Linked DNA regions of Homo sapiens: regions 2 and 3 are each linked to region 1. Evidence: fine-mapped expression QTL. A gene starts in region 1. Each other region holds a variant in brackets. All regions are shown on one strand. Distances are from middle to middle.

Region 1 (10,984 bases):
GTTTTTCTGAGTACTAATGAGTTGCACATTTTAAAATATATTCATTGGCCATTTATGCTTCCTCTTTTGTGAAATGCCTGTTTACATGTTTTGCCCATTGTTCTACTGGATTGTTTATCTTCTTTTTACTGATTTATAGGTGATCTTTTTTTTTTTTGGAGACAGAGTCTTGCTCTGTCACCCAGGCTGGAGTGCAGTGGCGCCATCTCAGCTCACTGCAACCTATGCCTTCAGGGTTCTAGCGATTCTCCTGCCTCAGCCTCCTGAGTAGCTGGGATTACAGGTGCCTGCCACAACGCCCAGCTAATTTTTGTATTTTTAGTAGAGACAGGATTTCACTATGTTGGCCAGGCTGGTCACAAACTCCTGACCTCAGGTGATCCACCCACCTCGGCCTGCCAAAGTGCTGGGGTTACAGGCATGAACCACCGCGCCTGGCCAGTATAGGTGTTCTTTATACTAATCCTTTGTCAGTTATCTGTGTTGCAAAATTCTCCCATTCTGTAGCTTGTCTTTTAATTTTCTTTGTAGTATCTTTTTTTATTTTTCCTTAGAAACAAGGTCTCCCTGTGTCACCCAGGCTGGAGTGCAGTTGTGGGATCATAGCTCATTGCAGCCTTGAACTCCTAGGCTCAAGCAGTCCTCCCACCTCAGCCTCCCGACTAGCTGGGACTATAGGTACATGCCACCACACCTGACTTCTTTTACTTATTTAGAGACAGAATCTTGCTGTATTTCCCAGGCTAGTCTTGAACTCCTTGCCTCAAGTGATCCTCCTGCCTCAGCCTCCTGAATCACTGGGATTACAGGCATGCAACACCACACCTGGCTAAATTTTTTTTCTTTTTTTTTCTGTATTTTTTTTATTATTATATTTTAAGTTCTAGGGTACATGTGCATAACGTGCAGGTTTGTTATATATGTATACATGTGCCATGTTGGTGTGCTGCACCCATTAACTCGTCATTTACATTAGGAATATCTCCTAATGCTTTCCCTCCCCCCTCCCCCCACCCAACAACAGGCCCTGGTTTTAAAATATATTCATTGGCCATTTATGCTTCCTCTTTTGTGAAATGCCTGTTTACGTGTTTTACCCATTGTTCTACTGGATTGTTTATCTTTTTACTGATTTACAGGTGTTCTTTTTTTTTTTTTTTTTTTTTTTTTTGTGGAGACAGAGTCTCACTCTGTCACCCAGACTGGAGTGCAGTGGCGCCATCTCAGCTCACTGCAACCTACACCTTCCAGGTTCTAGCCATTCTCCTGCCTCAGCCTCCTGAGTAGCTGGGATTACAGGTGCCTGCCACAATGCCCAGCTAATTTTATATGTATTATCTCATTTAATTTCCACAAAAACCCTAAGAGATGAATTATTGTTATCCCCCTTTTACAGATAAAGAAATAGACTCAGTGAGGTTAAGTGTGTGCCGAAGGTCACACAGCAACCAGTGCTGGGCCCAGGGCTGGAAACCAGGTCAGGCTGATCCTGAGATCCGACTCTTCTCTGCTCTGCTGCACTGTGCGATGAGCAACAGAGCAGGCCAGGGCAGCCTCTTCCCACCGCACTATCAGGTGTCTCTCGCTTCAGTCCTGGTCCTCCCAACACCGTTTCTATAGGACTTGCCATCCCCTCTTCCCACCGCACTATCAGGCGTCTCTCGCTTCAGTCCCGGTCCTCCCAACACCGTTTCTATAGGACTCGCCATCCCCTCTTCCAACCGCACTATCAGGCGTCTCTCGCTTCAGTCCTGGTCCTCCCAACGCCATTTCTATAGGACTCGCTATCCCTTCTAAGTGTCTCCTTTGGCAAAATTGGCCCAACCTATGCCTATGTCATATCACCATTATCTGCAGTAAAAACAGGACTCCTCCTTCTGTTTCAAAAGACTGCTCATGTCATTGACAACCCGTGCTCATTCTCGAGATTGCAAGCTGCTATTTTTGAAAAGTTATTTTGCATGACATTTTGCCTCAGGGGCCCTTGGTCTGTTTAATCTGGGTATCTCAGTTGGCAGAACACTGTGTGGCTCTCCGGATTGATTACATGTGTCTAATCTGCAGCTCTGGCTGTTGCAAAAACTCCCTTGCCTCCTTCTCTCTGCCTCACCCCCAACTGCCTTGCTCAAAACAGGTGATGGGTGGCTCATGGTTGGTCCGGAGGAAGGGGGAATCCGAGAAAGCAGAGGCTACACAGTTCAAACAGTCCCCTGCAGGGCAGGCTTGGCTGTTTTCTGGCTTCTTCTGCTGGGAATTTCACTGACAGCAGAAATTAATCCCACTTATTCACTCATTCATTCGCCCCTCCAGTGAGGGTCTGAAGTCAGGAGTGGAATGGTCATCCCTCACTGCCCTGTGGAGTTTACACTGTAAAGGGCAAGGCGGACTATAAACGGGATTACAATAAGATCTGTGAGGTGAATTAAAGGGCATGTGTAAATAAAGACAGAGTCTCGCTCTGTCACTCAGGCTTGAGTGCAGTGGCACAACCCTAGCTCACTGCAGCTTTGAACTCCTGGGCTCAAGCGATCTCCACGCCTCAACCTCCCAAGTAGCTAGTACTACAAGTGTGTGCCACCACATCTGGCTAATTTTTCTTGTTCTTAATTTTTATAGAGACGGAGTTCTCACTATGTTGCCCAGGCTGGTCTAGAACTCCTGGCTTCAAGCAATCATCCCACCTCAGCCTCCCAAAGATTGGGATTACAGGTGTGAGCCACTTTGCCCGGCTTTCAGGGACCTTCTTTAGTGAGTCCAAAGAGGGGCTCTCTGAGGAAAGATGCAGAGCTGGCTGGGTGAAGAGCCCAGAGGAGGTCATCATTCCAAGCAGTGAGAGGAGGTGAGAAGTGTGTGGCTTGGTTGGCCTGCTTTAAGAAACAAAAGCAGGCCTGGGTGGCAGAGGTGTGGATGAGAGTGACAGGAGATGAGGGAGTGGGGAGGAGGCAGAGAGCAGATCTTTTGAGGCATGAATATGATAGAGCTGGCCGTAGGGGTGGAGCTGACAGTCAGGGAGTGGGAGGACATTATTAGATCATCACAAGTGTGAGCCCAGGACGGGCCATACACATTGCCTTGAGAGCCTTTGGCAGGGCCACCTTCCAAGTCAGGCTGTGTGTGACTGGAGGGCCTCCGGGGAAGGTAACTTTTAAGCAAAAGTCCATAACAGGAACTGGCTGCAGTGACTCATGCCTGTAATCCCCCTGCACTTTGGGAGGCCAAGATGGATCACTTGAGGTCAGGAATTCGAGACCAGCCTTGCCAACATGGCAAACCCCGTCTCCACTAAAAATACAAAAAATAGCCAGGCATGGTGGTGTGGCCTGTAGTCCCAGCTACTCAGAAGGCTGAGGCAGGAGACTCACTTAAACCCGGGAGGTGGAGTTTGCAGCGAGCCCAGATCATGCCACTGCACTCCAGCCTGGGTGACAGACCAAGACTCCGTCTCAAAAAAAATAAATAAATAAACCCACCACAGTGGTTCTCAAAGGTGTGGTCCCCAGGCCAGCTGCATCAGCACCACCTGTGAATTTGCTAGAACTACAGATTCCAGCGCCCACCCCAGACCTACTGAGTCCTCCAGAGCACAGAGCACGGAGCCTAACACGTGCTGAATTCATGGCCTCCGAATTGCAAGCTGTCAAGTTCCAGAGTGTGCTGACGTGTTAAGATGCACAGAGTCGTGTCATGGGGACACACCCTAGCCAGCAGGTTGTGCCCACCCCGGCGTGGAATGAGGACAGAGCCCAGCTTGGGTGGGTTTAGCTGATTTTAAGGTGCCAGGGTAGAAACAGAAATGCGTCTGCACAGCTGTGCTGGGTGAAATTTCACACTTGGCAAGGTGTGAACAGAATTAACATTTGCTGGAACAGGTTGGAAGCCTTTAGACTGTGAGTTACAAAATCAGGCAAAGAAAGAAAAAAAAAGGAAGGGGGAAAATTAGGTGATCTTCAACCTCATTAACTCAAGCCCAGCTGCAGAGGATGTTACCAAATTATCCACTAAGAAAACCCACCTGGGGCTGAGAATAAGCCTGAGACTTCAGGCCCCAGGGGTCCTTTTGAAAAGAAAGTTCTCCGCCTGAGAACAGTTGCTCTCACGAAAGCGCCTCCTCCACAGCCCCTGCAGAGCATCAGGCCTCGACACTTTAATTGCTCCGATAGAAACAAGCTAATGGGGTTTTAATAAAAATAGAACCCAAATAGGCGTTGATCCCCTATTTTTTGCAACCAGAGGCACTGCCACAGTTTCAGTGCCATCGGTGCTAGCTAGGGGGGTCTCCATGCCATGAGACCCTGGTGAGAATTAAATAAGGAAAACAAGCTTATGGATTCGATATTTTGAGAGCTTCAACAAAAACCAGAACTCTGTCAACAACAGCCTGGTTTATCCTAGGTCCAGGGAAAAACAGGTCAAGACACATGCCCCAAATCACTAAAGGCAATAAAAGCTTGGTAGGGGTAGGGGTGCCCGCGGTCCTGCTCCCCAGCACTGGAGTGAGCAGGACACTGGCTGCCCCTCAAGATAATTTGAATCTTCAAAAAGTAAGTAAGATGTCCGTTTTTTTGGCCAGGTGTGGTGGCTCACGCCTGTAATCCCAGCACTTTGGGAGATGGAGGAGGGTGGATCACCTGAGGTCAGGAGTTCAAGACCAGCCTGGCCAACATGGCATAATCCTATCTCTACTAAAAATACAAAAATCAGGTGGGCATGGTGGCTCACACCTGTAATCTCAACTACTCAGGAGGCTGAGGCATGAGAATGGCTTGAACCCAGGAGGCAGAGGTTGCAGTGAGCCGAGATTGCGCCACTGCACTCCAGCCTGGGCGACAGAGCAAGACGCTGTCTCAAAAAAAAGTCCGTTTTTAGTGCATCTGTAGTTTCAGGTAGGATCATTTAGTAATTAGGGGTCCAGGCTCTGGGCTGGGAGCCCCCAAGTTCAAACCCCAGCTTTGCCATTTTGGAGCCACGTGACGTGGGAGTACGGTGCTTAGCTCAGTGCCCCACTTTCCTCATCTGTAAAACGGGAACCATGATTATACTCACCTGGTAGGATTTTGAGGTGCACTAAATGGGTTCTATGTAAAATGCTTAAAGCAGTGTCCTGCACGTGGTAAGCCCTTGAGTAATGCTGGCTAGTGGGGGAGATCGGGAATAAACAAGTAACAATGAGGATTTCAGACAGGGATAGAACCATGAAGAAGACAAGCAGGCTGAGGTGGTAAATAATGGGGGCAAGAGGGGTGGCTGCACTGTAAGAAGGGCCCTCTGGGTAGTCTGTGGAGCCACCGGACACACAGAGGCCTGGAGCATCCAGGCAGGGGAGCCAGGAAGCCAAATCTTTAAATGGGGAACAGTGTAGGCATTCCAGGCTGGAGAAGGATGGTGATATAGTTTGACGATGTCTCCACCCAAGTCTCATCTTGAATTGTAGTTCCCATAATCCCCACGTGTGGTGGGAGGGGCCCCGTGGGAAGTAATTTAATCATGGGGGCGGTTTTCACCGTGCTGTTCTCGTGATAGTGAGTGAGTTCTCACAGATCTGATAGTTTTATAAGGGGCTTTCCCCCTTTTGCTTGGCACTTCTCTTTCCTGCTGCCATGTGAAGAAGGATGTATTTGCTTCTCCTTCTGCCATGATCGTAAGTTTCCTGAGGCCTCCCCAGCCATGTTGAACTGTGAGTCAATTAAACTGCTTTCCTTTATAAATTACCTAGTCTCGGGTATGTCCTTATAGCGGTGTGAGAACAGACTAATACAGATGGCCTTGGGAAACCAGGACACCCCCCTTGGGAGGCTTCTGTGATAAAGGAGGTGAGAGATGAAGGTGCCTGGGGCCAGAGGGAGAACTGTGGGGATGTCAAGAAGTGAAGGGAGCCAAGAGGATGTGGTGACGACAGGATTCCAGATGACTTGCAGGCTTGTGGCTTCAGAGCTGGGATGAGAAAGCCCCGGGAGAAACAGCTTTGGCCTAAGATGCCATAGCCCCACCTGGCTGTGCGCTGCAGCCCTCCTACCTCTATCCGGGGCATGCTTCATCCCACCTGGCTGTAAGCCCAGCAGCACTTGCATAATTTCCCACTTGACTTTTGTCCCTTACTTTCCACATCGCTCCAAGATATTTACAACTAGTGTTCTTGCTTAGGACATAAGAGTGTGCCCCAGGCCAGGCACAGCAGCTCATGCCAGTAATCCCAGCACTTTGGGAGGCTGAGGTGGGAGGATCACTTGAGGCCAGGAGTTTGAGACCAGCCTGGGCAACATAGTAAGACCACATCTCTACAAATAATTTAAAAATTAGCCAGGTGTGGTGGCAGCACCTGTGGTCCCAACTATTCAGAAAGGCTGAGGTAGGAGAATTGCTTGAGCCTGGGCAGTCGAGGCTGCAGTGAGCCGTGATGGCGCCACTGCACTCCAACCTGGGCAACAGAGCAAGACCCTGTCTCAAAAAAAAAAAGTGCCCCTTATGGCTGCATCACTGTTTACATAACATTTGTCCTTTGCTGGAGACACAGCCTGTTTGTTTTTTTACAGTTTTTTCTTGTTGTTGTTGTTGTTTTGAAACGGACTCTTACTCTGTCACCCAGGCTGGAGTGCAGTGGCACAATCTCAGCTCACTGCAACCTCTGCTTCCCAGGTTCAAGCGAGTCTCCTGCCTCACCCCTGAGTAGCTGGGGTTACAGGCATGCACCACCACGCCTGGCTAATTTTTGTATTTTTAGTAGAGATGGGGTTTCACCATGTTGGCCAGGCTGCTCTCAAACTCCTGACCTCAAGTGATCTGCCCGCCTCGGCCTCCCAAAGTGCTGGGATTACAGGTGTCAGCCACCAATCCCGGCCTGTTTGTTTTTTAAATAGAGACAGTGTCTTGCTATGTTGCCCAGTCTGGTCTCAAACTCCCGGCTTCAAATGATCCTCCTACCTCGGCCTGCCAAAGTGCTGAGATTACAGATGTGAGCCACTGTGTCCGGCCCAGTGATGGAGCCTGTTTCTATCTAGACAGTAACCAAAACCCATGGCCGTTTCCTAAGACTATCAGTTTGCAAATGGAGTCCTTGAGCAGTTCAGTAAGGGGAAAACATTTTAGAGTTTAGGGGCTTTTATTTTAAAACTTTCATATTTTTACTGTGTTAAATTGATGACATATATAATACATGGTCCTGCATGTACAGACTTCTGAAAGATTCAAGTAACCAGAACAAAACAAGTCCCCTTCACCATCGCCTCCCACACCCACACCCAGCTCCGGGAGGTAACAACATCAACAAACAGATGGCTTCCCTCCAGTTCCTTTCAACGCCTTCATGCTCACATGTAGTCCTTTATGTAGGTTGGATCCTATTATACATTCTGTTCTGTGCCCTCCCTTTTTTACCTAACAATATCTCGGAGATCTATCTACCTTATTCTTGTTTAACAACCACAGAGGTTTTCAGAGTAGGGAAAGATCATATTCTATTTAACCACTCAACTTCTCTGAAGGATTTGGGCTGTTCATAAATTTTCACAACGTTACGGTGAACGTCACAGGACTTACATGCAGCCGCATGTGCAAGGATTTCTGTAGTGCAGACTTCTGGAAAGGTGGAATTGATGGAGCATAGAGTAAGTACATTTAAAATTCTGATAGGGGGCCGGGCGCGGTGGCTCATGCCTATAATGCCAGCACTTTGGGAGGCAGAGATGGAGGACTGCTAGAGTTCGAGACCAGTCTGGGCAACATAGCAAGACCCACATCTCTTAAAATTCTGATAGGGACTACCAAATTTTCTGCCCAAAGTCTGCCTTTTTCTAAAAACAAAAAGTATATTTAATGACAAAAGTAACATTCCTGTAAACATGTAATGAATACAAACAAGACCAGAAAATAAGTTTTAAAACACCCAGAATTTCATTACCTAGAAGTGGCGATATTAACATACATAGTCAATTTGAGTCATTTTACCATGCATATAGGTAGAGATAAATTTTTAATGAAAATGTGGTCAGAACGTAGACTCTTTAGTAACCTGCCTTTTGCAGTTAACTATATGCAACAAAGCTCTTTCCAAGTCATTAAAGATTCTTGGATTTTGTTTTGTTTTGTAAAGATGGGCTCTCACTAGGTTGACCAGGTTGGTCTTGAACTCCTGGCCTCAAGCAGTCCTCCCATCTCAGCCTCCCAAAAAGCTGGGATTACAGGCATGAGCCACTGCACCTGGCCTAAAGATACATCTATGGTGACATTCCAGATTCTTAACATCATTTAGGGACAAGAAAAGGGAAGCTTATGTGGAAGGAAGGAAGGTAAAAAATTTTTTTAAGACTATGCTAAAAGCAGCATTGACAATTCCTAACTTTGCTTATGTAGGAAAATTATTCTACAACCCTGGTTCCTGGAGGTCTTTGAGAATCTGATAAAGCTGAGGCGGGTGCATCACATGAGGCCAGGAGTTCGAGACCAGCCTGGCCAACATGGTGAAACCTCATCTGTACTAAAAATACAAAAATTAGCTGGGCGTGGTGGCAGGCACCTGTAATCCCAGCTACTCAGGAGGCTGAGGCAGGAAAATTGCTTGAACCCGGAGGCAGAAGTTGCAGTGAGCTGGGATTGCGCCCCTGCACTCCAGCCTGGGCAACAGAGCAAAACTCTCTCGAAAATAAAAAGAGTATGGGCTCTTGATTCAGACACAAGAAACACAACTTTGAATCCTGGCTTTACTACATACTCTTCAAACCCTCCGCCTGTTTCTTCACTTGTAAAATACAGACGATAATCAGCAGGTTCTAGGGTTGCTGTGAAGTTTAAATAAGTTCATACACATAAAATGTTTGCAACAAGGTCTACACACAGTAAGTGGTAATTAAATGCCAGCTCTCATTATTTCCAGTGTTTTGCCCTTGTGACATTTCTAACCATATCTTTGTGCACATCTGTGATTACTTCCAAAGGATAAATTCCTAGATGTAGAATAGCTGGGTGGAATCATGAGCATGTTTATGAGATTTGGTTTTGGTTTTTTTTTTGTTTGTTTGTTTGAGACAGAGTCTCACTCTGTTGCCCAGGCTGGAGTGCAGTGGCGCAATCTCAGCTCACTGCAACCTCTGCCTCCTGGGTTCAAGTGATTCTCCTGCCTCAGCCTCCTGAGTAGCTGGGATTACAGGCATGCGCCACCATGCCCCACTATTTTTTTTTTTTTTTTGTATTTAGTAGAAACGGGGTTTCACCATGTTGGCCAGGCTGGTCTCGAATCCCTGACCTCAAATGATCCACCCGCCTCGGCCTCCCAAAGTTCTGGGATTATAGACGTGAGCCACTGAGCCTGGCCATGTTTATAAGATTTTGGATACATGATGCAAAACTCTTCTCTAAAGCCTCAGATTCAATGATGGTTCTAGGACTGGTTAACAGTGGTAAAGAAAATGCACAAAAATCCTTGCCCTCCTGGAGTTTCCATTAGAAAGGGAGTAGACAGTCAAACTGAAAATGTGATCTATTGGGAGGTGACAAGTGCTATGGAGGAAAATAAAGCAGGGCTGGGCTTAGGAGGGCTGAGACAGGGTGGGGGCTGCAGTTCTACAGAGGGTGGTCGGGGGGCTTCCCTGAGAAGGTGACATTGGAGCACAAAGACTTGAAGGAGGGAGGGAAACATGCAGACGCCTGAGGGGAGAGTGTTCCAGGCAGAGGGAATAGCATGTGCAAAGGTCCTGAGGCAGGAACTTGCCTGAGTGGAGGGGGGAGGATGGGAGGAGAAGAGGATAGAGCAGCGAAGGGGTGGGACATGTCATGGAGGGCCTGGTGGGTTGAATCGAGCTACACTTTTTTTGTTTGTTTGAGACAGAGTGTTGCTGTGTTGCCCAGGCTCGAGCGCACTGGCACGATCTCGGCTCACTGTAACCTCCATCTTCCAGGTTCAAGCATTTCTGGTGCCTCAGCCTCCCAAGTAGCTGGGACTTAAAGGCATACACCACTAGACATGGCTAATTTTTGTATTTTGGGTAAAGACGGGGTTTCGCCACGTTGGCCAGGCTGGTCTCGAACTCCTGACTTCCAATGATCCACCCGTCTTGGCCTCCCAAAGTGCTGGGAGGGAGCAGTGTTAATTTCATACCACTGTAGCTCTAGGAAGGGTGAAGCAGGCATTCAAAAAGACAATGAGAACTAATCAAAATTGTGTTTTCCTTGTTTCAACTTGTGCTTAAAAGCACTAAAAGGAAGTGACGACTCTCATTGTTTCCCAAGAAAATCAGAGGTTCCTTGTTTTCTCAGTAAAACATGCGAATATTTCAGATACTCAAATCCAGATACTTTTTTCCTAAAACACTAAGAACCAAGAGTAAAATGAAAAGACACACACCTGTTTTGTTTGTTACTGGGTGGTGTTCTCAGAAAAACCATCTGCCAGGCATGCAACCCGAGGCAGTGTCTATCAGGGGAATGTAGGGCTGAGATCACAGTGCCCATGATAGAGGGTACCCGTGCCCAAGGCCTCATCCCTCCTCTTCCTGCCACACGTCCCACCACAAAGCCTCAGTCTCAGAGACACATGCAGAGGGCAGAAAGGCCAGCTCGGAGATTACAGTTCAGGGTGAGGAAGTAGCAAACCACAGGTTCATCTGGCGGACCACTGTGGCTGAAATAAGTGAGCTAGAATTTCCACGCACTTCCCCAAACAGCAGAATCTGTGCCTTGAAGAAACTAGGAAGTTCCAGGGACTTGGGAAGGACCAGAGTTTGACCTGAAATGGTTATAAATGAGGGGAGGGCCAGGTAAGGTGGCTCACACCTGTAATTCCAGCACTTTGGGAGGCTGAGGAGGGTGGGTCACTTGAGGTCAGGAATTGGAGACCAGCCTGGCTAATGGCAAAACCCCGTTTCTACTAAAAATATAAAATTTAGCCGGGTTTGGTGGCAGGTGCCTGTAATCCCAGCTACTTGGGAGGCTGAGGCAGAAGAATTGCTTGACTCTGAGAACTGGAGGTTTCAGTGAGCCAAGACCACACCACTGC
Region 2 (10,984 bases), 42 kb after region 1:
GAGAAAAACTCCATCTAAAAAAAAAAAAAAACAAAAAAACTAATACAATGTAAATGCTGTGTAAATAGTTGTTATGCTGTATTGTTTTTTATTTGCATTACTTTATAGTTACATTATTTTATTTTTTAATATTTTTGATTTGTGGTTGGTTGAATCCATGGATGTGGAACCCATGGACACAGAGGGCCACTGTATATATGTGTGTGTTTGTGTGTGTGTGTGTATATGTGTGGTGTGTGTGTGTGTGTGTGTGTATGTGCGTATGTATATATATAAAGCATTGAAGATCATACCCCCAAAATGTTAACACTGCCTATTGTTAGGCAGTGGAATTATTAGTGATTTTTATTTTCCCCCTGCATAAGGTTTATGCATTGAATATACATAACTATTATAATTTGTAAACAATATTATCAGTTCCACCTCTTGCCTTGACTCAGCACCAACTGGGTTTCCATGAGCCTGCTAAAGTTTCCAGGGGAAGTGGAGGGACATTTGCAAATGGCACTGGAGGGGGCTCTACTGTCCTCAGGAACCGAGGAGACAGTGGGGTGTCCAGAGTTACCAGGATAGCAAGGGGCTGGCCCTGCAGGGCAAAGGGCCCTTACATATCATGGGAGAAAGGGGATTGCAATAAAACCAGTGAGTCGTCCACGGTGGCCCAGGAGCAGGGAGCAGATAATCTGGTAACTGGTGAAATTCCAGAGCCAGGCTGAGGCCGGGAACTCTTCCCCACCCGCTTCCTCGTTCCAGCTTCCTCACCATCTACTCATGCATACCCAGGCCTCTCCACCTCAATTCAGGAGCTCCCATTGAGGGGCAGGGCTGCAATGTGCTTAGCTCTGTGCCTCCCTGAGCTCAGCACAGGGCCTGGCTGATCCAGTGTAGGATGGATGGATGGATGGATGGATGTTCTCTCCCTTTCGTCCGCCTCCCATCTCCATCTGCTGATCTTCCACCTCTTGGGGGCTCAGATGCCTCTTCCTCCAGGAAGCCCTTGCTGAGTCCCCTAGGCCTCCACTGCACTCTATGGTAACATCAATTACTCATCTTAGTAGAGTCGGCCTGGTACTGAGATTATGGGACTCTGAGCTGGTTTCCATCAGTGCATGAACCTTAAAGTCAAGGTCAATGTCCTGATCAGCTCTGTTCTCCATTGAACCCCACAACACCAAAAAGACGCTCAATCAATACTATGAAAGGAAAGAAAGGAGCCTCTCTTCTCTCCCTGAGTGTGGCTCAAGATTCGGAAGTAGGGAGTGTTACTGGGGAGGGGGAGACAGTTCCTATCTCCCCCACCCCTGCTAAGGGAAGAAGATTCATTGGCCCCAGGTTCATCATCTGCACCTCTGACTCCATCAGCTGGTTCTTTCTACTTGCTCCCAGTCATGGTCACGAGGGGATGGTGACTCAGCCCAATTCATCACCACAATGGAAAAACCCAGTCACCTGTCCTCCTGGCAGCAGGACTGGAGCTGCCTCTGTCTGTGGAAGGGCAGCAAGCCATACTGTTTTCAAGGTCCTTTTGTCTTTTACCTGCTGAAAAATCAAAAATTTAAAGAATGGAGGAGTACCACTGGTTTACATTTACAGTGTGGTATGAATCTCAACAACGAGGGATCGTTGAGATCCCTATGTTCCCTCCACGCCAGGCTCCAAGTCAAATGTCCATGTGCATCATCTTACAACAGTTTCACAAGACCATTGTTATCTGAAGTGGTCACTGGTCACTCTTGGCCCCCAGCAGCTGACACACCCTTTCTACAAGGCAGAGCCCACCTCCCACTAGAGAAACTGAAAACATCTTTCCCCAGCTTTGCTTACAGCTTTGCCAAAGTATATGACCTATGCTCCTCCAATCAGACATCCCATTCTATTTATTTATTTATTTATTTATTTACTTATTTATTTATTTATTATTTACCGAGACAGAGTCTGTTCTGTCACCCAGGTTGAAGTGCAGTGGTGCAATCTCATCTCACTGTAACCTCCGTCTCCCAGGTTCATGCGAGTCTCCTGCCTCAACCTCCTGAGTAGCTAGGACCACAGGCGTGTATCACCATGACTGGTTACTTTTTGCATTTTTTGTAGAGACAGGGTTTTGCCATGTTGCCCAGGCTGGTCTTGAACTCCTGGGCTCAAGCAATCTTCCTGCCTCAGCCTCCCAAAGGGCTGGGATTACAGGTGTGAGCCACTGCACCTGGGCGTGTTCTGTTCTTGGTTGTTAATTAGAAACTAGTGGCACGAGGAAGCCAAGACCACACAGAATCCACTGCGGTGAGGACTGGGGAAGCAGCAGCTGAGTTCCTGATGGCAGTGCCCAGTGACCACGTCCAGGGGTGGCACTGGCTGCAGCTTCTGTGCTGGGGGATGGCAGTAGTGGTTTTAACATCAGGCCAACATAGCAGTGTCAGGCCTGGCACCTGATATTCCAAGAGATGCCCACCCTCCTTTTTTTTTTTTTTCTTTTTCTTTTTTGAGACGGAATCTCACTCTTTTGCCCAGGCTGAAGTGCAGTGGCAGGATCTCGGCTCACTGCAACCTCTGCCTCCTGGGTTCAATCAATTCTCCTGCCTCAACCTCCCAAGCAGCTGGGATTATAGGCGTGTGCCACCACACCTGGCTAATTTTTGTATTTTTGGTGAGGTTTCACCATGTCGGCCAGGCTGGTCTTGAACTCCTGACCTCAAGTGATCTGCCCGCCTCAGCCCCCCAAAGTGTTGGGATTACAGGGTGAGCCACCATGCCCGGCCTATCCTCCTTTTAACAAAGCCTTTTTCTGCTTCAATTAGCCAGAGTAGGTCTCTATTTCTTGCAATTAAACACCCTGACTAGATATATCAGCCTGAGTTTACAGATGAGAAGTGAAGGCTCATTTGAGATCTTTAGAAAGGTTATCTCATCTCCGACCTGGGTGCAGGCCAGTGATCTTCTGCCCATTTTACAAGGCAGTGACTTAGGAAGCATGTTTCAAGTAATTAGGAGCAAGGCTGGGGGGACACTTTCTTAGAGGCCTCCTGTCCCAGGCAACAGCTTGGCTCTCTGCACTGTTCTGCTTTTCACTGTTAATCCAACCTGCTCCCAAACATCACCCCTCCTCCGCAGAGTGCTGAAGATGAAGAGAGCCCAGCGGCACAGGGGACCCAGAGCTTGCCCTTCTGCTGACTCAGTAGTGACTCCGCTGCCTGTCATGACTGATGTTTCCAGAAGGGTCAGGGCCTCCTCAACCTACCTCTTCCTTATGCACCTTTGTTTGATGCAATAGCCCTGGGGACTCTCACGATTACGTTTCTTCTTCATCTATTGTCTCCACTTTTATTTATTTATTTATGTATTTTTTAGACTCTATCACCCAGGCTGGAGTGCAGCAGCGCGATCTCGGCTCACTGCAACGTCCGCCTCCTGGGTTCAAGTGATTCTCCTGCCTCAGCCTCCTGAGTAGCTAGGATTACAGGTATGTGCACCACGCCCAGTTAATTTTTGTATTTTTAGTAGAGATGGGGTTTCACCATGTTGGCCAGGCTGGTCTTGAACTCCTGACCTCAGGTGATCCACCCACCTCGGCCCCCAAATGTGCTGGGATTACAGGCATGAGCCACCGCGCCCGGCCCTACTGTCTCCACTTTTAGGAGTTCAAATCCACAACCTGACTCACTGGAATGCTCACAGGAGTTCATGAACTATCTGAGCTACATGGATAGTCTGCATGAGTTCAAGGCCACTGCAGACACCATGTCTCAGACAGGCGTGTCATAGTGTCAAAGCTCCTGTTAGGCAGCCTGCAGAACAGCCTAGGCCCCGTGAATTATGTCACTAGAACATCAACAATTAATTTTGTCCAATGACAAAGTCTGAAATGACTGAAAAGGGTAGGACTCAGGTAAGCCTGAAAGAATCTCTCATGCGATAATAACAATTTCATCATGAATAATAATAATGACCATGTATTGAACACTTAAACTTAAGTCATGCGTCTGGCACTATATTAAGCATTTTCTTTATATTCTGTTATTTAATCTTTACAGGAATCCTGAGGTCAGCATCATCCCAATTTCACAGAGTATGACATGACGTCTCAGAGAGGGTAAGCAGCTTGCCAAACATTCCACAGCCAGGAAGCTGTAGGACCAGCCTGTGCTCCTAAGGACTGGCTCCTGGCTGCTATATATAGAACTAAGCCTGGTGGAGGTGTCAGAAATAGAGGTTCACTTCTGTCATCACCGACCTCCCTCCACACCTTTGCAAAGGAGGAAACTGAGAGGCAGGGATTTCCGCAGAGCAAGGAACCCAAATTGCTGCCTCCTGTGATTTATACACTGCACCCCAAGCTGTAGGGGTAACCCAAGGACAAAGCTGTAACCCAAGCGGGAACATATGCCCCATCTGGGGCCACCAAAATCTTACCAGCTTCCTCAGCTGGTGGATCGGTTAATTCACGGCCACAGCCCCCTGGAGCTGGGGGAAAGGAAAACCAGGGCGTCTCCGCAAACCAGCCCAGAGAGAGGTCTGCGGAAGGGCCCGGAAGCCTGCAGGCCCCTCTGCACCCCCAACCCCACCGCCATCCTGGACCTCCAAGATGACCTGGTCCAA[C/T]AGAGTCCTGCATGGAAAAGACTGGAACCCAGGGAGGAGCAGAGCCCCGCCCAAGGTCACCGGCCGAGCCTGAATAGAACCCGGTTCTCCAGGAGCCCTGTCTTTAGCTGTCTTGTCCAAATAAAATTTTTCAGGCCATCAGATTTCCGTACTCCCTGGAGTGGGACTTCATCTGGGACCAAAGGAGGGCTGGTGAGGGGAGTGGCAGGAGGGAGGAGTGCCTCGGGGCCCCGAGCAGGATGAGCCTGAGGAAGAGACGGGTCCCCATGTTCCCTTTCCCGCTCAGATAATGGAGGTGAATTGAGGGGAGCAGAGACCTCCCCACCTTCAGGGTGGGACCCTGAGGGACCAGGACACCTTTGCTAGGGGATGTCCCTCCTCACTCCTGCACAAGTTCCTCAAGGACACCCTCGGGCTCCGAAAACGGGGGGAGGGGGACGACGCCCCAGAGGCCCCTGAGCCCCTGGTTCTTCCCGACCCTAAGGGCTTTTCTCCCTCGGTTCCCAGGCGGCGACGGCGGGTAGCGCGAAGCAGCAGGCGCAGGGGCGCTGGGATGGGGATGTCTCTGCAGGTCTAAGGTTCCCCTTGGGAGTCTAAACAAAGACTACGGCAGCGCCGTCCCCTCCCCCGGGAACCCGACGCCGCGCGGCCACAGGGGGCCTGGAGGGGCGGGCAGGGCCTCGCAGCGCACCCAGCACAGTCCGCGCGGCGGAGCGGGTGAGAAGTCGGCGGGGGCGCGGATCGACCGGGGTGTCCCCCAGGCTCCGCGTCGCGGTCCCCGCTCGCCCTCCCGCCCGCCCACCGGGCACCCCAGCCGCGCAGAAGGCGGAAGCCACGCGCGAGGGACCGCGGTCCGTCCGGGACTAGCCCCAGGCCCGGCACCGCCCCGCGGGCCGAGCGCCCACACCCGCCAAACCCACGCGGGCACGCCCCCGCGGCGCACCGCCCCCAGCCCGGCCTCCGCCCCTGCAGCCGCGGGCACGCGGAGGGGCTCCTGGCTGCCCGCACCTGCACCCGCGCGTCGGCGGCGCCGAAGCCCCGCTCCCCGCCTGCGCGTCTGTCTCGTCCGCATCTCCGCGGTGAGTCGGCGGCGCCCTCGCCCCTGAGCCCAGGGCCAGCTTCTCTCGCCGCCGCGGCTGCTGCGCGCGTCCCCGCCCAGCCCAGCCCAGCCCCGAGCACGACCCCAGCCCCACGCACGACCCTAGCCCCGCGAGTCCCGCACCGACTCGCTCCCGCCCCATTTCGCCTCCGCGGGGGCGGCGCCCCCTCCTCCCCGCGGCTCCCGCTCTCCTTCCTCGCCTTCCCGGCCGCGCTGGGGACCCCCAGCCGCCGTCCGCGACCCCCCACCGCGACGCCCGGAGGCGGCGGGGTCTCTTTGTTCGGGCGGCGGGCACGGGGGACCACCTCCCACGGTGTCACCGCACCCACCCCGCGCCCTTCCTCCGCCTCCTGGAGTTCACCGGGACCAGGTGGCGGCGGGTGCCTTTTTGGGGGTGCGCGGCCATGCAATTGGTGGATTTTTTTAAACCGTTTTGGAGGGGGGAGCGCGGCGTTGGGGGCGGGAGAGCGCTCCTGGCTGTGAGCTGCTCCTGCCGCTTCGCTCCGCGCTCTCCTGCCGCTCCGCTCCGGGTCTCCCGCGCTCCTCTCCCCGGCTCGGCCGAGCGCGCTGCCCCGACGCCGCCACCCAGAGCCGGGCCGCGCCGGGCGCCGAGATGAAGGTGCTGGGACACCGGCTGGAGCTGCTCACAGGTACCGCCCGCCTGCCCCGCAGCCGGCCGCCACTTTCCGAGTTGGAGCGGACTCCGGGCGCGGCGGCCGGGGACTGGGGCGGCTCGGGTCTGAGCAGGAAGGGGTGCGGACCCCAACTAAGTCCTAGTTTTGTGCTACCTGTTTGTGTGCGGAGCCCAGCCCCGGGAGAGGACTTGAGGTTGTGGCGAGTCCCTGGCGCTGGCGTCCGGGCTGCGGGAGCACCGGTCAGGGGGTGGCCCCATGGGGTCTCTGACCAGCGGAGCTCGGATTAGGACCCTGAAAGCTAGCTCAGGGCTCCTGCCCTCCAATCAGTGTCGCTTGTCCCCTAAGAAAGGACCCGTGGGCTTCTGGCAGGACCCGCGCCATGGACCTCTTATTTCTGCGCCCTGTGACAATCTGAGCCGTCTTTCTCTGGGGGAGAAGTTTCTTGCTGGGAGTGGAGGCGACGCCAAGTGGCCTGGGAAGTGGGAAGCCAGATTGGACCCTACTGACTGGGGACCCTCAGCCTTGGGGCTCCTCTGGAGAAGTGATCAGTTGCCCTGCTGGAAACTCACATCCAGGGGGCAGTGGCTGGAGAGCAAGAGCGAACGGTCAGGAAGAGGAGGTGGGAAAGGGAGCAGGGACGGGGGGGAGGATTCGAGGAGTGACTTCTGTGTTCTCCCCGGTGTGGAGAGACCCAGACAGGAGGAAAGGAAAGCAACCCGGTTTCCTCCAGCTCTGGGACTTATAGGTGCTCCATCCGTGTATGTCAGATGAGCACAGATTCCAGTAAGTGTCCTCCGACACCTGGGGGAGGGGGCTGATCACTGCCTTCCAGGACCTTAATGTCCGATGAGGGAGCAGAGCCCCGGAGCCCTGTTACAAGGCTGGAAGGGGCAGCCGTCTGTGGGTGCGCTCAGGAAACGGTGGAATCCGAGTCGGGGGCAGCTTTTGAAGACCTCGAAAAACAATTTTTGTTAATGAAGAAGGAGGTGGCATTATGGGTTCAGGATCAAGGGAATGGCCCATGCTCTGGGGTGTGAGAGAGGCTTGTTCGGGGAGAGGTATGGAGGCTGAATGGCCTGGAATGTGCGTGTGTGTTGCGGGGGAGGGGGCTAGAAGGTGGGGGTGGGGTACGTTGGGTGAGGTTTTATTAAATCGGCAGTAGCAGGCCAGGCGCAGTGGCTCATGCCTGTAATCCCAGCACTTTGTGAGGCTGAGGCCAGAGGATCGCTTAAGGCCAGGAGTTCAAGACCAGCCTGGGTAACATAGCGAGACCCCATCTTTACAAAAAAATAAATAAATAAATCAGCAATAGCTCGTGACAGACTTGTAGAGAAGGAAAGGTGGAAGCTGTTCCTGGGACACTGGAAACTGACTGGGTGCTCAGAAGTTCCAGCGCTGAGCCCAGTTAGCCACGGGGCTGGCACCCCCTCCAATCCCTTGCCAACTTTTTCTTTGTGGAGCTCACTTGAGGCAGGCCCAGCTCACCCAACTTGGAAGGGAACCGCGCAGGCCACTGAACTTGTTAACCCCCTGGAGGGAAGGCTTGCGGTTCCATGGGTGTTTTGTTTGTTTGTTTTGTTTTGAGATGGAGTCCCACTCTGTCGCCCAGGCTGGAGTGCAGTGGCACAGTCTCGGCTCCCTGCAGCGTCCGTCTCCCAGGATCAAGGGATTCTCGTGCCTCAGCTTCTCAAGTAGCTGGGATTACAGGCACGCGCCACCATGCATGCCTAATTTTTGTATTCTTAGTAGAGATGGGTTTCGCCATGTTGGCCAGGCTGGTCTCGAACTTCTGACCTCAAGTGATCCACCTGCCCCTGCCTCCTAAAGTGCTGGGATTACAGGCGTGAGCCACCGCACCCAGCCCCCACCATGGGTTTTTAGAGCTCTGCATGGTGAACAGATCTCCTGGTTCCTCTCTTCCCCAACTCTTCCTGCCCCCAAAGGGCCTGGATGAGAAATGCTCACAGGAGACATGTGTGGGGGGCTCAAGCAGGGGTCTAGGCTTTGGAGACCCCATGCACTGTTCTCTCATCTCCTGGATAGAGGAGTCAGGACCCCTCTTCCCCCACCAGATGGGGTCACCAGATTCTGGCGGGCTTTCTAAGTCCCTGGCCAGGGTGGATGAGGCCCCTCTCAGTTACTGTCATCAGTCACAGGCTCCGCCCCCATTGTACCTGCAACCTGGCCCTGGGAGACAACCCATCCCCTCTGTTGCTATTTTGTGGTCTTCACAGACTTCCCTCTCTGTCCTCTTCCTTTTCTCACAGATCGGGATTCTAACTCCAACCCCATCAGTAGCCAGCTGTGTGACTTCAGACAGGTTGCTTAACCTCTCAGACTTCAGCCCTCTCATCTTAAAGATGGAACTGTTGGCCCCTGTCTCTAAGAGATGGTGTAAGGCTTGCTGAGATAGTGTAGGCGACACACGTGGTTGGGACCTAGACCCTGGTGGGCACCTCTTGGGCCCCACCTGTCCTGGCTGGTTGGCACCTAGAGCATTTGGATCTGCCCCCACCCTCCTTTATCCCTGCTTTCCTGCGTCTGTGAGATTTGACCCATCTCCCCCATTGGATAACAAGCAGGTCACAGTCCGGGAGGTGGCCACTTTATTGTGGTGGCACACAGCAAATGCTCAAGGGTTGCTGACTGAGGCTAGGCTCACACAGCCCACTCGGCATCTACGTCTCTAGGATAATTCTGTAGAGGCCTCTAACTCCCTGCCCCGACATCAGCCTTAGGAAATTTTTACTGAATTTTAAAAACTCATATTGAAGGCTGGGCACAGTGGCTCACACCTGTAATTCCAGCACTTTGGGAGGCCAAGGCAGGCAGATCACTGAGGTCAGGAGTTCAAGACCAGCCTGGCCAACGTGGTGAAACCCCCATCTCTACTAAAAATACAAAATCAGCTGGGTGTGGTGGCGCACGCCTGTAGTCCCAGCTACTTGGGAGGCTAAGGCAGGAGAATCACTTGGACCTGGGAGAGGGAGGTTGCAGTGGGCCAAGATTGCACCACTGCAGTCCAGCCTACGCAACAGAGCAAGACTCTGTCTCAAAAAAAAAAAATTGATTTAGTTCTGTATACTTTTCACATTCTCCTATTTTATTATCTTGCCTGTCTTGCCAGTGAAGTCAGTGACTTCCTCATGTTCCTATTTCTCAGAAGAGGCAGCACTGGATTCAGAACCCAGCCCTGAGCCGGGAGTTGTCCCATATGGCATTCTAACTGCCTGGCTTTGGGACAGTCTAATAGCCGTTCCACACTTCATTTTCCTCATCTGTAAAATGGGATCGTCGTGGTGCCTACCTGGCTGGGATCTTTGGAGATTAGGTGTGTGAGCGTGTGCAAGACGTCGAGTGCAGCTTCTGGCGGGCGGATAGTTGATGACAGTCGTGGAGCTGGCGTCCTCAGGCCGCCTCCCGAGTGCACTCCATCACTGTGCTGGGGGCTCCTTCTCCTCCCACTGTGCTCCAGTTTCCAGATTCCCTCCCCGCAGGGTGTTCCAGTTCCTTCGTTGGGTTCTCACAACAGTCCAGGCCTCTCTGAGCTGTGTCTCTGGGGGACCCTACTTAGGTCTCAGGTTCCTGTGAGTCAGGCATGGCCTCAGGGGGTGGGGCCCTTCCAGCCAGACACCCACAGCTCTGACATCATGGGGAAGGCCAGGTGCCCCCTCACATGTGGGACTAGAAGGAGACCCATGGGTTGTCATGCCCAGATCCAGCATGTCTTTTTGTTCTGGAGAGAAGAGGAGGCTGTTGGGGTCCTTCTGGAGGCTTTGTAAATCATGAATGCTTGTCGAGGCCATTTCCAGGCGCCTCAGCGGGGTCTTGCTGCAACAGGGACAAGGAAGGCGGGGGTTTTGGAATCAGAGGATGTGAATTTCGGGGTCTCCCCTGTGCTTCTCAGCTCCTGGGCAAATTGTTACCTTCTTTCGGCCTCAGTCTTATCAGTAAAATGGGAATAATAGCCCTCATTAACAGTGTTAGGCCAGAGCAGTTGTCTCACGCCTGTAATCCCAGTACTTTGGGAGGCCCAGATGGGTGGATCACCTGAGGTCAGGAGTTCTAGACCAGCCTGGTCAACATGGCGAAACCCCGTCTCTACCAAAAATACAAAAATGAACCGGGCTTGGTGGTGTGTGCCTGTAGTCCCAGCTACTGGGGAGGCTGAGGCAGGAGAATTGCTTGAACCTGAGATTAGGAGGTTGCAGTGAGCTGAGATTGCACCACTGCCCTCCAGCCTGGGCAACAGAGCGAGTCTCAAAAATATATATATTGTGGGGAGCCAAGATGATACTTGTGAGGGAGCCCAAGACACCGTCACACCTGCACACGAGCTCATTACAATTCTCAGAGGGCAGATTCCTGGTGCCTTCGGTAGCCGGATGATTTTTTTATTTTTTAGTGTGATATGTGAAAGTGGGACACTGGTCTTTTTGCAAGTAGGAAGGCAGTTGTTTCTGCGCATTGGCACTCGAGCAATATGTTCCAAAACGGTTCAGAGTCAGAGCTCTAAAATGGCAGATTTGGGCTCTGAAATGGTCCCTGGGGAGCCTCAGTAGTGGATCTTGGAAATTTTTAAAAATATACTTGATGTGTGATTGAGAAACAAAAGTTTTACCAGTTGTTTAGAATTTTGGTTTCATTTGAATACATGGAA
Region 3 (8,937 bases), 440 kb before region 1:
CCTCAAGTGATCTGCTCACCTCAGCCTCCCAAAGTGCTGGGATTACAGGTGTGAGCCATCGTGCCTCACAATATACTTTCATTTCTCTTGGGAAGCCTCCTGGGGTAGAATCTTCCAGATGACCCAATCATATGGTACATTTCTGTTTCATTTTTTAAGAAACTGATAAACTGTTTTAAAAGTAGTACTCCATGTCTTGACCAGGGTGGGTGGTAGTTATACGGGGTCTCATTTTGTAAATTATTAGTTACATTAGATATTTATTCACTTTCTGTATTTCTTCTATTTTATAACTTTAAAAGAGTCAAGAAATAAATTGGGGGTGGGGTGGTGAGTGGAGTCAACTCTGGGAAGGTTTTTTGTAAGGGGTAGCAGTTAGGAATGCTGTTCTGGAAGCTGTATGGAGCACTGGAGGAGGAGCAACTGGGGAAACAAATCCTACAAGAATTTCACAGGAGGGGCTCCAAGACCCATCAGGTTCAGCCCCTGGGCAGGTATATGCAAAAGCACATGCCAATATATGCAAATAAGTTAGGATCTCCTGGGGTTTCCTCACCTTGGGGGTCTGTCTCTAATGGTTGTGACCAGGATGGTGGGCAGGCCCCAGGGCTTTGGGGTGCTGGCCTTGGGCACTCACAGCCTGGCTTTTCTGGGAGCCTGCAGTCCTGCAGGGGCTGAGGGTGGAGTATCATCTGCTAATCCCTGGCCTGCTGAGTCCACCACTCTCCCTGATCCCCTCACGCTTACCCTGGATACTGGCCACAGCTAATCTCCACTCCTGGAGACTCAAGGGCTGGCAGACAGTGCAGTGCCCTCTTCCCTGAGGGTTCCAGGGAGGGGAGATCCCTCTCAGCATCCAGATCCTCCTAACGGCAGATCCTAGAGTCCTTGCCTAACACAGAGGAGAGCCTTGAGTCCCAGAGAGAGGCGGTAATTAGCCCAGGATTACACAGCCTGCAGTGGGCTCAGTAGCCATTTCTGGCCTGCCTTGGCCTGACTACCTCCAGGGAACCCCAGCTCCCCATCTGACATTTCCCAAGATGCCTGGCCTGTGCTAAGGCCTGGGAGACCACAGCCTTCAGGAAGGCTGGAAGGGAGTGGCCAGAGCACAGGAATTCTGGCACAGGCTCTTGTTAGAGCCTGTAGTTGCCAGGGTTGCTAAGGAGTGGGTGCCTCAGAATCAGGCTGCAATGGGCATTGTCTGTGCACAATGTTCCTTTATTCTGCTGCTGTCCATAATAAGGGCTCGTCCACCTCCCTTCCTCTTCTGCCCATTGAGCAGTCAAAGAACTGAAAGTCCTTATAAGCCTGTGCACCTGGGCCTGGGCCCTACAGATAAGGTAGCTGCTATTGGTGAGTCAGAAGCAGGGAGCCCTTGCTCTCTTCCCCATATCCGTGATCCCCCTCCCTGTCCCTCCCCAGGCAGTCACATCCCCTAAGGCAGCTTCCCCATGCCTTGTCACCATGCCCCCTCCCTGCTCCTCCATGATCTAAGGTCCTCTCTCCTCCTGCCACCCTAGCTTCCACCTCCACCTCTCACCTCTAACTCAGGGTCAGGAAGAAAGCAAGCTGTCTCAACAAATTCTCACTAAAGTGTAAATGACTGAAAGGCTCCTGGGACTATCTGCTTTTTAAAGGGAGGCACTGGGTATCCAGTAATGCTTTTCTAGTTTAAATATATCATGTTGCTCCCCTTCCTGAAAATCTTTCTGAGTCAATCTGTAGAATTTTGGGTAAATAGCTAGGGCAAGTCCATAATTATTCACCCAGAGGTATACGGCATACTAAGCTACATTCTGAACCCGCTTGCTGCTGCACTTTCCTGCTTATTATTTAAGAATAGACTCGCCAGGCAAGGTGGCTCACACCTGTAATCCCAGCACTTTGAGAGGCTGAGGCGGGTGGATCACTTGAGGTCAGGAGTTCGAGACCAGCCTGGCCAACACAGTGAAACCCCGTCTCTACTAAAAATACAAAAACTAGTCACATGTGGTGGTGGATGCCTATAATCCCAGTTCCTCAGGAGGCTGAGGCAGGAGAATCACTTGAACCCAGGAGACAGAGGTTGCATTGAGCCAAGATGGCGCCACTGTACTTCAGTCTGAGCAGAAGAGTGAGACTGTCTCAAAAAAAAAAAAAAAAAGAAAAGAAAGAAAGAAAAAAAAACGAATAGACTCAAATACCACCTCTTTTAGACCATTCCTTGAATGTCCTAACCCCAGCCTCCCCAGAAACACACACTCTGTACTGACCTCCCTCACAGCCATGGCACAATGTGAGTGTGTGTGTGTGTGTGTGTGTGTGTATGTGTGTGTTGGAAGGGGAGTGGGAGGGTTGTCTCTGTTATCTTCTGTTATCTGAATGTTCCTGCCACCTCATGCTGAGCTCCAGAAAAATGGCCTGGCACACAGTAGGTGCTAAATAAATGTTTGGCAAGTAGACATCGGCACTGGCCAAGGTTGTTTTCATGCAGAGAAGGGTGTCTGGCCAGCATGAGCCCAGGGTGAGCCCCTTAGAACCCTCTGCCCCCCAGCTATGGCCCGCATCATTGACCTGGTGCCCTGGGACGATGGCTCCACACATGTGTATGCCTCCCCGGCCATCCTGCTTCCCATGGAGCGGCAGCGCAACCAGCTGGCGGGCGTGAAGCAGCAGCTCTACCACCCAGCCCTGCCCACCCTGCGCCACATGGACAGGGACACCGTCAAGGCCTGCCTTCCTGATGAGCACTGCCAGTCCACCACCTACTGCCGCAAAGGTTAGGACACCAGTGTAGGATCCCCTTTGGGGAAGGGGCAGATGGTTTCAGGAAAGAGGGAGACAGATGCAAGGATGAAAGAGGCCAGTCCCAGCTCTGCTGCTCCCTGCCCAGGACACTTTGGCCAGGTCTGAGCCTCTGTTTACTGCTCAGTACAATGAGGATAATTGACAAGGCCTACCTCAAAGTGTTGTTGTGGGGTTAGAAGGAGATAAGGCACAAAAAACACTTAGAGGCTGGGCGCAGTCCCAGCACTTTGGGAGGCCAAGGCAGGCTGATAACCTGAGGTCAGGAGTTTGAGACCAGCCTGGTCAACATGGTGAAACCCCATCTCTACTAAAAATACAAAACTTAACCAGGCGTGGTGGCAGGCACCTGTAATCCCAGCTACTTGGGAGGCTGAGGCATGAGAATTGCTTAAACCTGGGAGGCGGAGGTTGCAGTGAGCCGAGATCACATCACTGCACTCCAGCCTGGGCAACAAGAGTGAGTCTCCGTCTCAAAAAAAAAAGCACTTAGAGTAGTGCCTGGCACATAATATGTGCTCAAAAAGTATTGCTGATGCCATTGTTGTTATTGTTGTTTTGTTTTTTGAAGACAGTGTCTTACTCTGTCGCCCAGGCTGGAGTGCAGTAGCATGATCACAGCTCACTGCAACCTCGACCTCCCAGGCTCAAATGATCCTCCCATCTCAGCCTCCCGAATAGCTGGGACCACAGATACGTGCCACCCTGCCCTGCTGATTTTAAAAAATTATTTGTAGAGACAGGGTCTCCCTATGTTGCCTAGCCTGGTCTCAACTCCTGGGTTCAAACGATCCTCCTGCCTTGGCCTCCCAAAGTGCTGAGATTACAGGCATGAGCCACTGTGCCTAGCCTGTTGTAATTAATGGAGAGAGAACTGGGCAGAGGTTGACAGGTGCAGTGGTAGGAGTCATAACAGTAGTAACTTCTGCCCAAGCATCTCTGTATGTGGAAAAGAGAGAGAAAGACCTCTCCTCACAGCCCCCATGCAGGAGAGGAAGACGTGTGGGCCTTCAGGGCAAAAGAGCCCCACGGGCCTAGTGAATAACCCCGCATGGACTGAGGAGCTTGCGTGTGGAGGGATTTAGAAGGTATTTAGCAGATAAAGTCAACAGGAGTAGGTGCAGGCGGGGCAGGGTAGGAGGCCAAACAGGGGGAGTGCAGGCCCATACCTAGGCTCCAGCTTGGGTGACAGGTGGGCTGAGGGTGTCAGAGACCGCACGGAGATTACCAGAGTTGCCACATGGGCCCTAATGGGAAACACAAGTGAGGGAAGTGGGTGGGGAGGCCGTGGGGAAGGAACACTCCACAGGGAAAAGGGGCACCCACACCTGCCCTATTTAAACGGCAGCCACGGGGTTCCCCACAGACTGTGCTATGTTGGAGGGGCCAGCCAGG[T/C]CACCAGTTCTTCCAATTTCCCGCTTCTGAGAGAAGCCAGGAATCTAGATTTTTAAGGAAAGCTCTGATGTAGATATGTATTTTATTGTAAGCATATGCTTTAAGTAAAAGTAATAGTCAGAACTTCAAAGCTCAAAATGCTATAACAATATGCACAGCAACAAGGCTCACTCCCACTGCCCCCGCATACAGGTAACCACCCCCCCACCACATTCTTAGTTTCTGATGTCTCTCCCTGGTTTACTAATGGGAATATAAACACATGTTATTTTGCTCCCCAACTTTTTATTACTGTTAACTGAAAACCCAGAAATTTGTAAATTTAGGCAGGGTACGGTGGCTCACACCCACAATCTCAGCACTTTGGGAGGCCAAGGCAGGCAGATCACGTGAGGTCAGAAGTTCGAGACCAGCCTGGCCAACATGGTGAAACCCCATCTTCACTAAAAATACAAAAATTAGCCGGGCGGGGTGGCGGGTGCCTGTAATCCCAGCTCCCAGGCTGAGGCAGGAGAATCACCTGAACCCGGGAGGCGGAGGTTGCGATGAGCCGAGATGGAGCCACTGCACTCCAGCCTGGGTGACAGAGCGAGACTCCATCTTCAAAAAATAAAAATAAATGTATAAGTTTAGAAAAGGAGACTTTATTTCTTACAAGGGGTTATAGCTGCCAGGTGGCCATCCCACAGGCTGGAAAGTGTGCCTCCAGCTTAAGCCCAAAGATAGGCATGTCAAAGGAGGAGGGGTTGGGTAAGAGCTTTATGTTCAAAGGGTTGGCTAAACATACATATTCAATAGTTTATAGGAGGAGCTATGAATATTCATGAAGATAGTACTGACATGGGCATATTGAACAAACATGCATGTAACATACAACCCATGTTCGCTTTGAGGTGGAGACTTAACCTTTAAATGTATTACAATTAGTCCCTATACGTCAAAAGTTCTTTTCAGGACGCGAAGCCCAGCAAGTGAGCAGCCTCTGTATGCTGGGCAGGACCAGTCCATGGTTGGTGGTCTTCTTACCTGGAGAAAGTTACTGAAATCAGCCTCTTATGCAATCAAAGGCATAGCTGTGGCTGGTGGATCAGGGGGTCAGTTCATCAGCATCTGTGAGCTGTATGAGTTGTAATTGTTTTAATATTGCTTATCTCAAGTCCAGGGCTAGAGAAAAAGAAAAACCTCATGGCAATTAAAACATAGCTTATTTATTTTTGTGTTTTGCTTTTCGTTTTGTTTTGTTTTGTTTTTTTAGACAGAGTTTCTCTCCATCACCCAGGCTAGAGTGCAATGTCAAAAACATGGCTCTTTACAGCCTCGACCTCCCAGGTTCAGGTGATCCTGCCACTTCAGCCTCCTGAGTAGCTGGGACTACAGGCACACACCACTATGCCAGGCTATTTTTGTTGCTGTTGTTGTTGTTTGTTTGTTTTGTGTGGAGACAGGGTTACACTATGTTGCCAGGGCTGGTCTCCAACTTCTGGGCTCAAGTGATCCTCCAGCTTCAGCCTCCCGAAGTGTTGGAATTACAGGCGTGAGCTACCACGACCAGCCTGTAGTTTATTCTTTAAGTGTAGGGGTGCGTGACTTAACCCTTGCCTGGCATGGCCTTAGGTCCTGTTAATAATCTGGTATCTTGGCCGGGCGTGGCGGTTCACGCCTGTAATTCTAGCACTTTGGGGGGCCAAGGCAAGTGGATCGCCTGAGGTCAGGAGTTCAAAACCAGCCTGACCAATATGGTAAAACCCTGTCTCTACTAAAAATACAAAAATTAGCCAGGTGTGGTAGTGTGTGCTTGTAATCCCAGCTACTGGGAGACTGAGACAGGAGAATTGCTTGAACCCAGGAGGCGGAGGTTGCAGTGAGCCGAGATCGCGCCATTGCACTCCAGCCTGGGCAACAGAGTGACACTCCGTCTCAATAATAATAATAATTATTATTATTATAATAATAATTATTATTATTATTATTATAATTTGGTATCTTATTGCCACAAAGAGTCTGTTCTCTTAGTCTTGTAATCTCTCTCTCTCTCTTTCTCTTTTTTTTTTTTTTTTTTTTTTTTTTTTGAGACAGAGTCTCACTCTGTCACCCAGGCTGGAGTGCAGTGGCGCTATCTCGGCTCACTGCAACTTCCGCCTCCCCGGTTCAAGTGATTCTCCTGCCTCAGCCTCCTGAGTAGCTAGCTGGGACTACAGGCGTGTGCCACTACGCCCAGCTGATTTTTGTATTTTTAGTAGACATGGGGTTTCACCATGTTGGCCAGGCTGGTCTCAAAATCCTGACCTCAAGTGATTGGCCTCCAAAACCACTGGGATTACAGGCGTAGCCACCGCACCTGGCCTTGTGATTGCTAGTTTAACATTAATGCTGGTCATTTATTGTGTCTAAACCGCAAAAAGGCAGGGGTGGAATGAAGCATGTCTGACCTCCTGTCCCATTATGGCTGGGAACTCAGTTTTTCAAGGTTTTGGGGGATCCCCTTAGCCAAGAGGGGGGTCCGCTCAGTCAATACATTGCGGAGACCTCAGGATTTTATTTTTAGTTTACATGATAAACATTTTCAAATGGAGAAAAGTTGAAAGAATACTACTATGAGTACCCACCACCTTCCTCCTGCTTCAGTTGATTTTTGCCATATTTTTGCTTCTCTCGCCCTCTCTCTTACATTCTTGGACACCCTTTAGCAAGCAGCTCCCAATGACAAAAACATCCTTCTACATGACACAATACCATTATCACACCTAGGAAAGCTAACAATACTTCTACAACATCTAATATCCAGACCATATTAAAATCTCCCCAATTGCCCTCAAAGATGTCTTTTCTGGCTTTAAAATGATTTTTTGGAACAAGAATTCAATCTAGGATTACGTATTTCAGTTACTTGTTATGTCTTTTGTCTTAGTCTAAAACAGTCCACCCAGTTTCCATTGCCCACCATCATACTGACTTTTTAAAGTCTCTAACAGTTGTGTTGTAGACAGTCCCATATGGTGAATTTGAGCCACTGTTTCTTCATGGTGTTTCTTATCTTGTTAATCTATTTTCTGTAAACCAGCAGCTAGGTGTAGAGATCTGAATCACCAGGTTAAACACTGCTGGCCAGAATCTTTCACAGGCGACAGATGCCGTGTTTGCCATAATGCTGCAGCAGGAGGCACAGAATTTCATTATCACATTATTTGTGATGCTAAGTTTGATTATTTGGTTAAGGTGATGACCTGAATATATATTCTCTGTTTCCAACAGTCTATGTTTAGTCTACCATTTTAAAGCAAACAGTAGGCCGGGCGCAGTGGCTCACGCCTGTAATCCCAGCACTTTGGGAGGCTGAGGTGGACAGATCACTTGAGGTCAGGAGTTCAAGACCAGCCTGGCCAACATGGTGAAACCCCATCTCTACTAAAAATACAAAAATTAGCCAGGCATGGTAGCACGCACCTGTAATCCCAGCTACTCGGGAGGCTGAGGCGTGAGAATCGCTTGAACCTGGGTGGCGGAGGTTGCAGTGAGCCGAGACCGCGCCACTGTACTCCAGCCTGGGCGACAGAGCGAGACTCTGTCTCAAAAAAAAATTTTTTTTAAAGCAAATGGTAGCATATTGTATATACCCATCTGCACCTTGGAGTTCTTGTATAGAGAAATTCCTCAACTTGTTAATTTATTTATTAAAAACAAGGTCTCGCTATGCCACCCAGGCTGGAGGGCAGTGGCATGATCACAGCTCACTTGCAGCCTTAAACTCCTGGGCTCAAGCAATCCTCCTGCCTCAGCTTCCTGAGTAGCTGAGACTACAGGCTCGAGCCACCATACCTGGCATTTTTTGTTTTGCTTGATTTCTAGGCACTCTTTCAATATTAAGGAATATTAATTAATATTAATATCTGTAAAATAAGTGGAAATATTTTTTCCATTTGTTTTTTGACATTTGTTTTTGCCATGTAGAAGTTTATTTTTATGTATTTAACTTATCAATCTTTTCTTTAAAGCTTCTGGATTTTTAATTAAAATTATTAAGGCCTTTCCCATCCCAAGATTATAAAAGAATTTGCCCATGTTCACTTTTTACATTGGAATCTTTGGAGTTTTATTCTGTTGCAAAGGTAAGATGTGAATACTATTTTATCTTAGATTTTTTTTAAGTTGTCAAATTAAAAAAAAATTTTTTAAGAGAGTCTCGCTCTGTTGCCCATGCTGGAGTGCAGTGGCGCAATCTCAGCTCACTGCAACCTCCACCTCCTGGATTCCAGTGATCCTCGTGCCTTAGCCTCCCTAGTAGCTGGGACTACAGTCGCGTGCCACCACACTCAACTAATTTTTCGTATTTTTGGTAGAGATAGGGTTTCACCTTGTTGCCCAGGCTGGTCTCGAACTCCTGAGCTCAAGTGATCCACCCGCTTTGGCCTCCCAAAGTGCTGGGATTACAAGTGTGAGCTACCGTGCCCAGCCTTTTTTTTCTTTTTTTGAGACACGATCTTGCTCTGTCACCCAGGTGGAAGTGCAGTGGCATGATCACTGAAGCTTCGACCTCCTGGACTCAAGTGATCCTTCTGCCTTAGCCTCCCGAGTACCCGGGATTACAGGTGCTCGCCACCATGCCTGGCTAATTTTTGCATTTTTAGTAGAGATGGTCTTTCACCATGTTGGCCAGTCTGGTCTGGAACTCCTGACCTTAAGTGATCCACCCGCCTCGGCCTCCTGAAGTGCTGGGATTACAGGTGTGAGCCATCGTGCCCGGCCTCAAAAAATTTTTAA

The links. PIP is the estimated chance that this variant, and not a neighbour inherited with it, causes the effect.
Region 2: its variant is fine-mapped to the expression of LINC02137 in nucleus accumbens (GTEx, PIP above 0.99). The same link has a PIP of 0.9 or more in caudate.
Region 3: its variant is fine-mapped to the expression of LINC02137 in cerebellum (GTEx, PIP 0.97).

The regions. Positions count from the first base shown.
Region 1 is chr16:58,415,748-58,426,731 of GRCh38, forward strand. It overlaps LINC02137 (long intergenic non-protein coding RNA 2137), which reads left to right and starts at 5,579. Exons shown (of 4, transcript NR_187253.1): 1 at 5,579-5,674. RefSeq lists an enhancer at 2,121-2,230 and silencers at 10,438-10,537, 10,608-10,687.
Region 2 is chr16:58,458,129-58,469,112 of GRCh38, forward strand. It overlaps LINC02137 (long intergenic non-protein coding RNA 2137), which reads left to right. Exons shown (of 4, transcript NR_187253.1): 3 at 3,343-3,454; 4 at 4,026-4,733. It also overlaps a transcript of NDRG4 not described here. Among named protein-coding and RNA genes, the nearest start is that of NDRG4, 37 kb to the right of the region's middle. RefSeq lists an enhancer at 1,237-1,531. The variant C/T (reference allele first, on the strand shown) is at 4,591.
Region 3 is chr16:57,975,282-57,984,218 of GRCh38, forward strand. SPMIP8 (sperm microtubule inner protein 8) reads left to right here and starts at 1,263. Exons shown (of 8, transcript NM_199456.3): 1 at 1,263-1,353; 2 at 2,534-2,758. The coding sequence starts at 2,536. The variant T/C (reference allele first, on the strand shown) is at 4,180.